Linked DNA regions of Homo sapiens: region 2 is linked to region 1. Evidence: fine-mapped expression QTL. Tissue or cell type: tibial nerve. Region 1 holds a variant in brackets; the other region holds the start of a gene. All regions are shown on one strand. Distances are between the middles of the regions.

Evidence for each region. PIP is the estimated chance that this variant, and not a neighbour inherited with it, causes the effect.
Region 2: LINC02889 starts here. The variant in region 1 is fine-mapped to the expression of LINC02889 in tibial nerve (GTEx, PIP 0.93).

What each region holds. Positions count from the first base shown.
Region 1 is chr7:17,491,891-17,500,079 of GRCh38, forward strand. The region is part of intron 1 of LINC02889 (long intergenic non-protein coding RNA 2889); the gene reads right to left. Among named protein-coding and RNA genes, the nearest start is that of LINC02889, 63 kb to the right of the region's middle. RefSeq lists a silencer at 686-845. The variant C/G (reference allele first, on the strand shown) is at 3,572.
Region 2 is chr7:17,555,708-17,563,896 of GRCh38, forward strand. It overlaps LINC02889 (long intergenic non-protein coding RNA 2889), which reads right to left and starts at 3,202. Exons shown (of 4, transcript NR_110013.1): 1 at 3,045-3,202.

The DNA.
Region 1 (8,189 bases):
TATTATTCCATTAAAATGCTATCGGTAACTAATTGCTCTGTAGAAAGTAATTGCATTTGAAGCCATTTGTAAAATAAGTCTTTCATCTTTCAAGCAACAATTTGTTTTGCCAAGAATAAAACTCTTAAACACAAACACATTACAAATGGACTTTAATTATGTTCCAAATGTGATTTCTTTGCTTATGTTATTTCTATGTTCTGCATTTGTATGTAACTTGTACTTTACGTTGTTTCTCTTCTTTGTTCTCATGTTAGAGAATTTGAAAATGTGGATGATACAAAAATCATTATCATAGTGTTCAGTGGCCTGGTACACCTACGACCCCCAAATTTAATTCAACATTTATCCAGCATGTACTAATTGCTCTGCACGCACATTAATTGGGAACCTATGGTATTCTAGATGCTTCACGACATAAATTTATTAGATGCCTCCTATTGGCCAAGGTTCAGAGCTGAACTACATGCTGTTCCTACCCACACAAGGTTCACACTAATTAATCTACCATCATATATAACATGTGAAACAAAATGATTGGCTATTTTACTGCTGTTTCCCAGCTTCCAGTTGAATATTTAGACAGTTCATCTTGAGAAGCTTGTTCCATTTGTCCCCAAGCTGGATGGTTGGCATTGTGTTCAAAATGTTCTTGGGCTAAGATCATGCAAGCCCTAACAAGAAATGAGTTTTCCAGAATCGTCAACATGAAACGGCAAGTAATTCTGTGCTCACTTTTAGCGTGTGAAACCTCAAATGTCATTTTTCTAGTTCTCTGGGTTTCTGTCTGCCACTGTGTAAATAAAGGGGTTGGCAAGGTGATACTGACTACTCCTCCAGTTCGCATTCTATAGTTCTATTTAGACAGCTCATTTGATCACTGGACATTTCTATGTAAGAATCTATGAAACAAGCTTGCTGGAACCAACCTCTTAAAAAGTCCCTGCTCTACAAAAGATTATCATGTCCACCCACAGACAACAGGAATTCTTTTCTGGTCATCAAAGAATGTATTCTCCTTGTTTACAGCAGTGCATGTCATCTCTGGTAACAATGATGCTATAAAGGTTTCCAAAGATTTGCAGCAAAGTGTGACAATTTGTGCAAGGACTATGCAAAAGGCTTAAGTTCTATATGCATATAGGGTTATTTCCATCTCTATTTATTGATACACATGCACGTCTATATGTATTTATGCCCATATGTGCATAGCATGTAATGAGTTATATATGCATAGTGCCAGGACTATGCTCATTTTCACATATAATTCTCACAACAAACCCCAAAGTGTTTGTCCAGTTTTCCAAAACAAAAAACTGAGGTTGGCTTATAGATTGAACATAATTTGCCTAAACTTAACAGTGAGAAAGTGACGGAGCTATAAAGTCAAGTTTATCCAACTCTGAAGGAAGGACACTAAAAATTTACATTCATATAAATATAAGGATTTCACATGACATAAGTTGTTAGAAACTGGACTGGTAGAAGATTGAGAATTGTTTCAGTAAGAAATATGCAAATCCTGTAGGCATTAATTTGCTCCTGAAAGTCTACCATCCTTATGCTCATAGAGAAGCCATCTATACAGTAAGGCAAGACTAACCAGAACTGGAATACAATCATTAAGAAGCAACATATAAATATTGCTAAGCTTACCCCTTACTAGCAAGGATGTCATAACATAACCACAACAATGTAATGGAAAGTTAACATCTAGGAAAGCATTAGCAACAGCTTAAAACACATAAAACAATTATGATGGTTGCCTCACTTCCGTACTTTCTTTAGTACAATTTATGGCAATTCACATTCCACATGTTCTAACACCAGTACACAAAATAATGGCGAAATCTAGGTTTGTGAAACAGCATATATACATTGCTTCTTTGTTATTTCCAATATACTTATATAACCAAAATTAGTAAATTACTTTAAATAATTATGTCCAGTTAACTTCATACTGTTGGTATCCCCAAAGCATCTTGAGAGATGCAAACAATGCTATTAAATTAACAAGGAGCAGGTTTGCATTTCGCTATGTAATATTTTAGTGCTAACATAGGATTTCCTTAGTACCCTGCTACAGGAATTATACCTATTTATTCTGGGGCCAGAGAATTTGATGTATATTTAATGTTAGCCTAAGAAACATAAAATATAGTCCATACGATATCTAATGTGTTTAGTTTTCTATGCATTTGTATGGGTTATTCATAGAGATTTACCTGGAGATAAACATTGTATTAAAACATATGAAAACTTTAAGTTAAATGTTTTGCTTTCCAAGTTACTGAACTGGTTTCCAAAGGACTTTGCCATTCAGAAGGATGAAATATATAAAACACATACATAACCCTTTTAATATGAAGTCTAATCAGAAGGGTGGTAGTATATTTGTTTCTATAAGTAAAAAATTGTGGTCCCCACTGATAGGGACAGGAGAGAGGGAAATACTGAGTAGACGAATGCTACCAGGAAAGACCCCAGCCTTAAGCCTGGAAACCCACAGTCCTAAATGAGAACAGGCATTCTTGTTTTCACGCCCAAAAAGTTGCCTTCTGGCCTACTACACCCTTGATCTTGTACCCATATAAACCCCGAACCCCAAGCTCCAGAGGCAGATGAGCAGATGAATGGCAGAGCGGCATGGCAGAGAAGGAGAGTAGAGAAGAAGCATATGAACACCGAGAGGAGTTTGGCTGGGGACCGTCAGAGAGGAGATCGGCCACTGGACAACCAAACTCCAGGGTAAGATCATCTTCCCACTCCATTCCCCTTCCAGCTCCTCATCTATCCCACTGAGAGCCACCTCCACCGCTCAATAAAACCCCTGCATTCATCCTTCAAATCTGTGTATGACCTGATCCTTCCTGGACGCTGGACAAGAAGCTGGGTACCAAGGGGAGTCCACTAAATTGCTTAACACTTAAGCCGTCTGTGGACTGCAGAGCTAAAAGAGCAAATGTAACAGTGGGGCTTCAACAGTCACAGGCACCCAGCCCTAGATGCTGCTGTGGGGCCAAAGCCCAAAAGCGCTCACCCTAGTTCGCACACCTGCCCATCTTTGTGCTCCCCCTCCCATAAGGGTTTGAGCTAGCAGCAGCCAAACAGAGAGCCACATCCCTGTCACACGTCCTGTGAGGTGGACCAGGAAACTCTCCTGTCTTACTACCAGTTGTTTTATTAGGTGGCCTCTAGCAGGTGGCTCAGTCTTTAGATCAGAGTTTCTCAATGAGAGGCAGAGGTACAATAGGGGATCTGTCACATTGCTTTTTCCCTTGCCAGGTATTTTAGAATCTTGAGATTGAAAAGAGTAGGGCATATAAATTTTTCAAATTATATTGAGCATTTTAATAGATTTTCGAAAACAAAAATATTCTTATAACAATACAGACTAAAAATTGGTAGAACCTCAATTGTTGGCAATATTCATAGATTTTATGATTTCAACTAGGGGGTAGAAGACATAACATGTCCAGGAGGCCATTCCATTTTTATTTTCACTAGCCATGGACATACATGGACTTACTTTTTTTAAGAAACACAACTTTAGATGGCTTTTAAATCAGCT[C/G]TAAACATTCTCATGCTCTGTGACTTACGGTTTAGGCACTACACCTTGATTCCTGAATATACTATTGGATTATAACTGAGCTGTTTTGCTTTTCACCCTGAGTTTTACAGGAATTTGAGAATGCTGGTCAGACAAAAAAGTACGTTGTACTGGAGATTCCTGAGATGATTCTAAAACCGTCCTGAAAAACAGTCATACAGGAGTAGATTACAAAGACAACACCTGCTAGGGAAATATATATCTTTGAGACATCTTCTGACTAATAAGTCTCCCTGTCATTTGAAAATGAAAGGAAAATGAGATCTGGAAGCCTAAAATATCACAAATGTTTTGGCACCTAATATTTTGGTGTGCTGGGCCTGGTCTGACTCACAATAACCTGCAAGAGTGTATTGTGTACATCTCTACGCAACAGCTTGAAGTCACTCATGATAGGAATCTTTATGCCACTGAAATTAGCAAATGCCACAAATCAAGCCTCTCACCTCTACCCCCAAAGATAGTTGTTAAACATTTAGTAACATTTATGGAGGAATGAAGGAGGATTCCTTAAGGATATTTGTTTTTGAGTTTTCCATGTAATAAAAATGCCATAGTTTATGGTTTGTTTATTCAATAACTTTCTCAATAATGTTTATGAAGGGGATTTTGTTTTCCACCTGAATGAGAAGGCAAACTGAAGCATATCTGAAACTCTGCATGTAGTTGTGCTTCCTGTCCTCAGGGGAGATGGCATAAGGATAGAGATAGAGAGCTTCTTGACAGGGACAACACACAGCCTGAAAGAGACGCCTGAGAAGGTGCTGGGAGTAGTCTCCTCTATGGAATAAGGCAGGCAGCAAGGTCAACAGGTGCCACCTTACTAGGGAAGAAAATGTAGGAAGAGTGAAAGGAACTTATGAATTCAGACAATGGGTATCAGCTTACAGGAATCATTAGCCTGACAGGTAGTAGTAGGTGATTCAAAAAAATTTAAATAAATTAAAAAGTTGACAGAGGTACAAAGGAAGCAACATTTCAAACATATTTCTCGTCTCTGAGGAGGGTATTTGGAATAAATTCAATTCTCTTCATAAACTATGCTTTTCTTGCCAAAACAAAATAGATCACAGCTCTTATCCACGCAGGAATTCCTTTGGTTTGTATGTAGAAAGGTAGCTCATCCTTTCAACATTATCCAGAATTAAATGTAGCCTTTATAACCCTTGGAAATAACAATGTAACACTTCTTCATAGGTGAGTAATAAATGACTTTTTCCAAAATCAACCATCAACCACAAACACTTGGCTTGCCTAGTGTTTTAAAACTGGAGAATATTAGGACAGGCTTATAATGGCAAATATTCCAGCTCACATGCCCACACAAAACCTAACTGTGCTTTTAGGGAAAATGACCAATATGAGCTCAAGGACAGTATTTTGTTCTATTTAATACATTGCAAAAATCATCTCATATCTGTAAAATTATGTACTATTTCTCTCTCTAGCTTAATCTATATCCTGACCTATCCATGCAGGAGAACTTTCTGTTCCCATTAAAATCTTATAGAGAATATACCTTTTGAATGAAAGTGAGGTGGGGAAATAAGCTAATGACCCATGGGTTATATTTCTAAGGTCTTAGCCCAGAGATGACAGAGTACAGGAGAGGTTAGCTCCAGTTGGTATGTAACGAAGCTAGAACAAAGTAAGGCCAAACAACAAAGCCGATATGTGTATGCAGGCTGCTAAAAATCCAGTGATCAAAGCAATTTAATGCTTGGGCCCCAAGTGTTTCCTGTTGGTCCAGTGGCTGATGACACACTGTCTAATAGGATGGCAACAGGGAAAATTAGTCCTCCAAGTCTCCTTCTGTTGGGAAACAAGATTACTCTCTCTGGATTTTTCAGTTCCATCTACAGTGTGGTTCTCAAACATGCCTGTACACTGGAATCCCTTGGGGAGCTTTAGAAACTAATGATGCCTTGGCCCTAGCCCCAGAGATTCTAATGAAGCTGTTCCAGGTTCAGCCTGGGCATCAGGATTTTTAAATGTTCCACAGTTGATTCTAACAAGCTAAAGCTGAGTTGTTGATTCTGCGGCACAAAGAGACTAAGTAGTGCTTCTCAAATTCTACCCTTGTAGGTCTGAGTAGGGTCTAAGATTCTATATTTCTAACAAGCTCCCAAGTGATGCTGGTGTGGTCCAGAAACAAGGCTTTGATTAACAGGGCTCTAGATCAGCAGCCACAATGAGGTTCCTGAAGCAGCAACAATGTCACGTGGAAACCTGTTTAGAAATGCAAATTATCAAGCCCAACCCCAGATATACTCAATCAGTCATGGGGTGGGGCAGGTGGAAGAGTAGCAAACTGCATTTCAACAAGCCCTCCAGGTGATTTTGGTGCCAGCTAAAAAAACCAAGGGTCAGAGCGGTATTATTCAAAGTGTGGTTATCAGAGCAGCAGCAGTAGCATTGCCAAGGAGTTCATAAGATGAATTCAGGATTTCAGGCCCCACCCCAAACTTGCTGGATCAGAAACTGCATTTTAATGACATCCCAGGTGGTTACTATGCATATTAAAGTGTGAGAAGCCCTACAGTCTTGGCAAATTTCCTCCTCAAAACCGTTGCCCAGAATGACAGATAAAAAACCACTCATTTGAAAAAAAAAAAGCCTAACGACAACGTTAATTATAATTGTAATATCTGGTAGGTTTCTTTTTAATTACAAAAAGCCCCACATTTTTACAGTGACAAGTTTTAAAACATGGAAAAACCTCATCAAACAAATGGAAATCACATGTGATCCCACCAAGCAGCTAAAACTATTGATAACTTTATTCTTCCATCCAAAGAACTGTTTCTAAAGAGAGAATAAAAACAAGTTATTGAAAGAGACAATATTATCCTGCTCCAACAGACACTTGGCAATGTTTCAACTGAAACTTTCACCTATCAGTGTAACTTCCCAGTGGGTTCACCTAGCCCGCTGCCTAGACAGACCTGATTTATCAAGACAGTGGAATTGCAGTGGAGAAAGAGTAACTCACGCGGTGCCAGCTGTGCGGGAGACCAGAGTTTTATTATTACTCCTGTCTCCTGTAGTTAAAGATAATTTTGTGGGTAGGGGCTTGGGAAGTGAGGAGTGCTGATTGGTCAGGTTGGAGATGGAATCATAGGGGGTCTATGTGAGGTTTTCTTGCTGTTTTCTGTTCCTGGGTGGGATGGCAGAACTGGTTGAGCCAGATTACCGGTCTGGGTGGTGTCAGTTGATCCATCCAGTGTAGGGTCTGCGAAATATCTCAAGCACTGATCTTAAGTTTTATAATAGTGATGTTATCCCCAGGAGCAATTTGGAGAGGTTCAGACTTTTGCAGCCAGAGGCTGCATGACCCCTAAACTGTAATTTCTAATCTTGTAGCTAATTTGTTAGTCCTGCAAAGATAGACTGATCCCCAGGCAAGAAGGGTGGGGGGGGTGGCTTTTCAGGAAAGGACTATTATCGATTGTGTTTCAGAGTCAAACCATGAACTGACTTCCTTCCCAAAGTTAGTTCAGCCTATGCTCAGGAATGAACAAGGACAGCTTAAAGGTTAGAAGAAAGATGGAGGCAGTTAGGTCTGATTTCTTTCACTGTCATCATTTCCTGAGTTATAATTTTGCAAAGGTGGCTTCATCTTTAGCCCAATGTGACAAAAATACGAGTCTCTTGTTTAGAATAATGTTGGTTACTGAAGGAGATACCATGACATCGGTTCCTGTGGTCATCTTGGGAATAAAAAACCTCTTTGCCATGTTTGAGAATGTTGAAACCAAGTTATTTTGTTCTAAGTTAGAAGGTCAGAGCTCAGACTTAAAAATACCAGCCAGTAATGAAAAACAGAGCGGCCGCATTTAGGTTACCAGCAGTGAATAAATTCCCAGATAGTTGAAACACCGCTGTATACTGGTGACCTTTAAACGTATAATGAGTAAATAGTTTGGGGGGAAAAAAAGGAATTCACATGGATCTCAAATTGTATTCTCTTTCAATCTGTAACAGATCAGCTTTTCTGTTAGAGGTCAGATTGTTAAAATTTTGACAAATTTGGCTGCCTAGAACATCTATGGCCTTAGCTGTCAAATCAGAAGCCTAGCAAAAGAAACTGGAGCTAGACTGGTGAAAACTAAAATTTAAACTGTTGCTTTTTGATATGATTCTTGCTTTAGAAAGCTGTCAAGGTATTCAGCAAGTGTGCCAATTTTCTTAAATGAGTCTGAACTTCAAGACCCTTCCCTTACCTGGGTGAATATCTTTTGCATCAAATCCCAATGTAAGAATGAAACTACACATTGGGATAAGGAGCTGGAACAAATCATGCTGTTTCTGTACAAAGAGAAAAACATACTGGACTGGACACAGCACACAGTGATGGGAAGTAGAGTAACTTGAAAACCAGAAGATGAAGAGTTTGGAGGGGGAGTCAGGGCTGGGGGTTATAATAGAAAAGACATGTGGATGGCAATGCCTGTCAAAGAGGCACCAAGGAGAAGGGGATTGCCAAACTGTGTTAGGAAAAAGGTCACTGGATCTGTTAGAACCTGTGGAACTGGTTAATTACCTTATAATCAATATAATAAAATTACATGTGTGGCTA
Region 2 (8,189 bases), 64 kb after region 1:
AGGACTGGACACCAGTTCTGGATATAACTGACTCATTTAGCAGTATGCCTCTAAAATCCTTTCCCAGGCAACCCAACCCACCCACCTTGGTTCATAAACTGCCTGTGCCATATCTGGCCTCTGGTTTCCCCTCACAAATACTATTTTCCAAACTTACATCTGTTTATTTCTTCTTTACCGCTGCCATGTCCCTTAAATATTTTTCTCATGTCTAAAAACTCCAGAAAAAAATCATTAGCTAAAATTAACTAAGCATATCAATGGTTTTGAATATAGGCAATGTTTGTATTCCTGTGTTATAAATCGGGAATCTCAGGTTCAGGTAATTTAAGTAGCCAAAGGTCATACAAGTGAAGGTCAGTGCTCAAATATGAATTTGGGGCTCTTATTTGAACCCCTCTTACTTTCCATTAGGCCATGCTGCTGCTAGTAGCGGTAAAGGAAGGACACAAGGCATAACAGTCTATGAGGCCAAAGGCAGTAAGAAACAGTGTGGAATTGTGTGTGGCACATAGTAGGTACTCGTGCTGAAAACAACATTGAGTTACTCAATGAATATACAATTGATTCCCAGATTCCATGGGCTTCAAACTCATTTCTACAATCCATGATTTCCTATTTCTTCTCCATGCTAAGCAGAGCCTGCTGCCATATGGTAACTTTGCCAGTAACAGTCTAGCTGCTTCTAACCAGGGCCTGCTTTCCCTTGGCTTTAGCACTCAAAGGTCAACTTGACCTTGCAGGGAAAGTGAGCAGGGAGCAAGCACCTCTGAGGACACGGCAGACAGCTGCAGTGTGGCTTTGACATTTACAAGAAATGAAAGCATCTCTATTTAGAAAACTTTTTTAAAGATACAGAAAAAGTAAGTCTAAAAATAGCCAAGATCTAAAGTTCCCCAAATAATTAATATCATGTCCCCATAACCTAAAGGATTCTCTTGATTTCAGTGGAAAAAAACTCTGCTTTTAAGTTTGAGAGACCTTTTTTCTTGCAGAAAACTGGGCAACATATTGTCTGATTGGGTAACTTCTTTGAAGCCTGCCTTTATTAGGAGTTAGCTGCTAGTCTGCTCTTCCTTGGATCTCAAATATTTTGGTTAAAAAAAGCAGTATTTTTAGTATTGCTGATTTATAGTTATCAAAAGGCTATGATTGCAGATCATGCACAGTGCATCCATCTGGGCAATTATCTTTTGGTTCTAATGGTTAGAACTGTGGCAGTTTCTGAGGTGTTAGAGTTCAGGTTCAATTCAAAGCATCAATGATGCTCTTCATACTAGACCAGGATCTGCCTCTGTAAGACAGACTCAATTCCCTTCTCTTCTTTTTTTGCAACAACCACAGCCATTACCCCAGCCTCAAATTCATATCCATTGGTTCAGAAGCCCTAAGGAAGGGCATTGATTTCAGAGAGGAAGCCCAACATGTGCAGGATTTTTTGCCCTGGATCCAGTGATATCTTTGAGAATCAGAAACACTTATTCTAATGTATTTTAATTTACTTTTCAAATGGAGCATTTAAACAAAAACTGTTTATTGGGTTCAAATTCAGAGCCAAGTTGTGTGTCGAGAGAGTCTTAATTTTTCATAACAGGACATGTTTGGCTCTAATGTGTGGGTTATGAGTCAATATATCAAATTTGACTAAAGTATTTGCTCTAAGTAGGGAGCAAGCCATTTAGCATTACAAATCCTGAACTTTTTGCAGGAAGGAGGGAAATAACTTTGATTTCTAAGCTCTCTTATTAAGATGAATCAAAGTTGATGAATAAACTTTCTGGATTGCTTAATACCTTCCAGATATCAGTATCAAGGCCTTGGCAAGGCAGGTGAAAATATTTCCATGAGCAAGAAGCAATTGAGAAGGACTTCCTCTGTGGGATAAATTCTTGGTAATTCCTGTGGGAAATTTTCCTTTATCCTAACATCTTTTTTTTTTTTTTTGCCTTGCCCAATTCTCAGTGTTTTTAAATACACAAAATACGGCTTTCTACTAAAAACTGGTAAATGAAGTTGGAAAAATACAAACACACACACACACACACACACACACACACACACACACACACGGTAGCCCTTTTATTGCAGCCATGTACGTAGCTTCGCTGAAGAGTTGACAAGATATATTGTGCAGCCACAGAGAGACACCACATCTTCCTTCCTCCCAGCACAACTTGTACAGTGATTAAATGTGATTAAAGTCTCAGGAACTTGGACACAGTCATATCTATTTTGGTACCACTGTCTTGATCCATCCCTACAGCCAGAAGGGAATCACCCTCTTTGTGTAAATGTTTGCTTTGTTGGAAATTCTCAAGCAGAAATTAATAGTATACATGCTTCAGGAGGAGTAGTAAATCAAGCATGATAAACAACTCCTAGGCAGTGTTTAGACTGGCCAAAAGTCATCTTAAGAATCGTGCACAATGATAGAATACCACGTTTGGCATCTATACACCAGAACTATCTATAAACAAAAAGCAAAATGGAGATCTGTCAATTAACCAACTAGTCTGATTAATGGGATCTGTCAGCATAGGTGGATAATAAATGACTAGAAAAGTAGCAAGTCTCCACTCATTCTATGTGGTGTAGACACAGTTAAATGAATCATGAATGTTTAGTGCTCTTTATAGCAGTTAGCGAACACACTTGGAACTTGTCTCGAAATTAGTTTTGATCTCTTGTTTGAAGTCAGATGCCAATATTCTAGACCCCTATGACATCATCTATTACAGACTCCTGGTTATCGAAGAGTTGAAACTAGTCAGATAGAATTGGCATGAAAAGAATTTTCAACAGAAAACAATCATGTTCAAGGAAGCCAAGTCTAGGATTTCAGGAGCTCAAAGTTTCAAATATTTTTATAAAAACATACATACATACACACACATACATACATTCATGTGGAGAGAGAAAATGAAAAGCAAGAAGACCTTTTCTTCCTTAGTCCAAATCCAATTTAATAATTATCCAGGGTATTCTCAGTAAAAACCAGGTATTTATGCCTCTATATGTATGTCACCAAAATGGAGCCAGCTTACCTGAAGGTCCTCTGAGGCTGTCACTTTCCTCTAGTGCTGTCCCATAAACCTGAAGGATATACAATAACAAAGGGGACAATTCCGTGGGACGAAAATCTTATTTTAAATAACTTCTCTATACTGACTTCAAGCCAAATGAAAAAACTACAGCTTTTTTGGAATTTTATTCCATTTCTGTTGTCTGATTCATAAGTGTTGTTAAATATTTACCAGGAACCTGCCAACAGTTTCTCAACATTAGTTAATCATAGGTAATGCTATTCCATTAACAACTCAATAAACTTCTTTAAAGTTGTACAAGGTAAATTTCAGTACCTTAACACTGCTAACCCATCCTTGTAGAATAAATATTTGCTTTGAGTTTCTCTATGCCAAGATTTATGGGATCAAGTAATCTAAATCTCCTTTTGTAAATAAGGTGTGCCCTCAAGAGGATGAGAGTGCAGACTCTACAGTCTTGTCTGCCTTCTCTCCACAGGTCCTTGAATAAAGCGTTCCATGTCTCCAGATAAACAGACTTGGGGCACTTCTGACCAGTATCCCAGCAGCAGAGGCTTTGGGAAATATTTTCAAGACGGTTCAAGCCTCCCTTCCACAGATTCTCTCACATCTGCCAGCCTGAAGTGGGCTGTGTTGGTTCATGTCTACCAGGACACTAAATGGCTGAAGGCCATTTTTTCTATTCTAATTATTGTTGCTTCTTTGTAACAATTTTTATAAAAGTCCAGCCTAATTTCTTTCCCAGCACACATGTATCTTCAGACACACATCTAAATCCAGGCTTTCATGATTAATCCTACTCTGAGTCAGCTGGGATAGAGCTCTGATGATGGGATATCCTACATGGTCATTAACTGCTGTTTGCACAAACACATCACTCAACGTGACTTCCACTGGATCTACCTTGTATGCAGAGTAGAAAGCTGCTTGTATGGAGTGACTTCTCTGTTGCCTGACCAACCACATGCAAAAATAACCTTTCCACTCACTGATACTGAATTCTACCAAAGAAGACAAGCCATCCAATCAACAACTCTCATAGTAAAGCACATGGCAAACATTATAACTGTATTACTGTATTATAAAACTGTATTATTAAAGTCTACTCTTACAGAATACTCGAGGAAATTAAAAAATGACAAATTCTCATTTATGTACACACCACTTATATCAGGTTCTTCTGGAGAATATATTCTGTTTGACGGAAGAGGAAGGAAGAGAGGATAAATTATGTTTATTGGAGAACTACCTAACCCAGACTTTGTACTAGGTGCTTTTTGAAAATTATCTCTTTAATTTCTGCAACCACAATAAGCCACAGATAACCCTGTCTTTGCTTCAGAGATGATTGTGCCCAGTCTCATAGGAGTTAAGCAATTTTTCCCAAGTCCTATAGCTGGTAAATAATCAGTTTAAGATTCAAGTAAATCATTTTATCAAAGCAACATTGAGGCAAGAAAGAAGAGTATGATATACAATTTTTAAAAGCCCAGACACCCACACATTTCCTGTAAGGAAAAAAATGTATTGATGTGTATGATAAAAATTAGGCCCTCAGCTCCTTGAAAAAGAATTGTTTGAGCCCCTGTAAATCTTTACCCAGTTAGTGTTCAAATAAATATTCCTGTAAAGATATCTTCAGGGTGAGAAAAGCCATAAACAAACTCCATTGTCATTTCCAGCATTTAAATCAGGACTAATCACAAGGAGCCAGTGTTAGCCCAATCCCCCTCACCTAGTTCCCCTCACTCTTTGCCAATACGCAGTTTTTAATCTGTTTCAGGAAGGAGTCCGAGGCGGTTTGGAAATACAAATTAACCTGAAACTACTTCCTAAGGCATTACCAGAAATCACGTTTTAGATGTCAAGATGACTTGCATTGTTCTAAACTTCCAGGCTGTGCCAATGGCCACAAAGGTAAATGGGGCATTGGGACAACCATGTGAAGGACTAAGTTGCAACATGAAGCAAGCACACTCTTCCGCATGAGTCACCTGAAAATGAAAAGAGAAGAATAGCTGGAAAAGATGATACTGTCTGACAACAGCATTTCAAATAAGACACAAAAAACTTGTCTGCATTTGCTTTCAGGTCATGAAATACCACATGAACTGAATGTTTGAGAACCCATTAGCTATGGATCACCCTGATTCAACAACCCAATTAATCATATTCTCAGGTCTATGGCATAATCAGTGTTTCTCAACCTACACTGCGTAATAAAATTACCTGAGGAAATTTTTGGCTTTTTGAGTGTTTTTATTTAAAAAGAAAAAAAAAATCAATGCCTGGACCCCAATACCAAAAATTTGGATTCATTGCTATAGGGTAGAGGCCAGGCACTAGTATTTTTAAAAAAGCTTTCCAGGTGATTCTAATGTGAGTCATGGTTGAGCACCACTGTTAGTTGTATGAAGTGGATTTAGAAATCTTATCCCTTAGACCCTTAGGGTTGCCAGAGCTGTCATGGCTATGAAACCTGCAAGAATTTGGGCAAGTTACTGGTCCCTGAGACTGTTTCCAAATCTCCAAAGTGAAAGCCAGAACACCTTTTAGGCACATGCTTTATCATGGAGGCCTGACGATCATGGTTTCAAAATAAATATCTGTGAACCTAGATACTTTATTTTCCTTCAATCATTTTTGATTCATATGTCTTTAGAATGTACACTGAAATGTAAATTGTATGTGAATATATCTTCCACATGTAACAGCATTACTTCTTTTGACTATGTAACTTAAATTATGTTTTCAGGATGCCAAAACAATTGGCTCAAAAGTAGGAAAATATTGTTACCTAATATTTGCTGCGTCTCTATATCCCTAAGTTAGAAAAACAGCACGTTTTGATTTTATGTTTGTTGATTTTATTCTATTTAAAAAAGACCAGCTACCCCATATTTAGAGGCTCCTACTTCATATCAAGACTCAAGTTGCAAGTCTTGGAAACAAAATAAAACCCCAAACTTAGTGCTTTAGACTTTTTATACATCCTACCCTATGTTACTGAGAAATTTGTTGTTGTGAGAAGGAAGACTTTAACTTGCATATGTACATATACATGCAAGTATGCTAGCATGATTCCTGAAACAAAGTGTTTACTAGATATTTATTAAGATTGTTTTTAAATATGAACTTCAACATCTTGATTGAATGATGAAACATGGACATATGAATCAAACTTTGGTATCTGCTCACTATCAAATGCTATAGAATCAAGAAAGTGAGAGCAACAATATTTCCTGTGCAACACACTACACACCTTAAATTTGGAAATATCTTTTGCTTTCATGAAAGTTTTATGATAATTCCTATTTACAAATTTTGAGGGGTGGTTTATAATTCTACTGTATTCTGTATCTGTAATCAAATCTTTGACAAATCAGTTGAATTTTCCCCCACAAACATAAAAGACACAGAATCAATAAATAAAAATACTAAGATACTTCACACAGCATCTTTTGACATTTGTAAAGAATTTTAGAGTACAAAGTAATTCTCTTTTAGTGAATGCATGGATTATACTATTATATAGAAGAGCACTACTTAGATCATAGTAGAGAAGGATATATCTACGACCCTATGAGACTGATGCTGCTAGTTGTTGCCAATATTTACCCTCACACTTCATTCCTTGGGGTAGCAATGTGCCCTGGCACAGGTGATAGAGTATGACTAGACTGACCAAGTCATAATTTTGTTCCTTATTTCCCAGTCTCCCTTGCAGCCAGGTATAGTTATGTGGTCCAGTCCTGGCTATGAGAAGTACAGGGAAGTCTCCTGGTAGGCTTCTGTCATTGTGCTTTCCTGACAAAAGGAGATAGGCACAAGAGGCATAGCCCATTCCCTCCAGCTTCCTGCTTAATGAGGCATCCTGTAATTAACTGAAGTTTCAGAAGCTATCTTGTGACCATAGGCAGCAATCCTAAGGATAAAAGACAACAAAACAAGGACAATTGGACTAAAAGATAAAAAGATCCTGGATCTTTGATGGAAGCATCAGGGAGCTAAATCAATGCCAGCAAACACCTACTCTGGACTTCCTATTATATGAGAAAAGTAAACTACTTAGGAGAAAATCATAATCCCCATGTCTGAAAGAGATTTTAAAGCATGTATTTTCTCACAAATCACCACTAAAGAACTTACTCATGTAACTAAATACAACCTGTACCCCAATAACTTATGGAAATATAGAATAAATAAATTTCATATGGGATCAAAGAAGACCCTGTAGAGCCAAGACAATCCTAAGCAAAAAGAATAAAGCTGGAGGCATCACGCTACCTGACTTCAAACTATACTACAAGGCTACAGTAACCAAAGCAGCATGGTACTGGTACCAAAACAGACCCATAGACCAACGGAACAGAACAGACCCCAGAAATAACACCACACATCTACAACTATCTCATCTTTGACAAACCTGACAAAAGCAATGCGGAAAGGCTCTTCTACTCAATAAATGGTACTGGGAAAACAGGCTAGCCATATGCAGAAAACAGAAACTGGACCCTTTCCTTACACCTTATGCAAAAATTAACTCAAGATGGATTAAAGACAAGTGTAAAACCCCAAACCATAAAAACCCTAGAAGAAAACCTAGGCAATACCATTCAGGACATAGGCATGGGGAAAGACTTCATCTCTAAAATACTAAAAGCAATTGTAAAGAAAGCTGAAATTGACAAATGGGATCTAATTAAACCAAAGAGCTTCTTCTGCACAGCGAAACAAACTATCATCAGAGTGAACAGGAAACCTACAGAATGGGAGAAAATGTTTGCAATCTACTCATCAGACAAAAATCCAGAATTTACAAGGAACTTAAACAAATTTACAAGAAAAAAGCAAACAACCTCATCAAAAAGTGGGCAAAGGATATGAAGACACTTCTCAAAAGACGACATTTACGTGGCCAACAAACATGAAAAAAAAGCTCAACACCACCAATCATTAGAGAAATGCAAATCAGAAACCACAATGCGATACCATCTCATGCCAGTCAGAATGGTGATTATTAAAAAGTCAAGAAACAATAGATGCTGGCAAGGCCATGGAGAAATAGGAACACTTTTACACTGTTGGTGAGAATGTAAATTAGTTCAACCATTGTGGAAGACATTATGGCAATTCCTCAAGCAT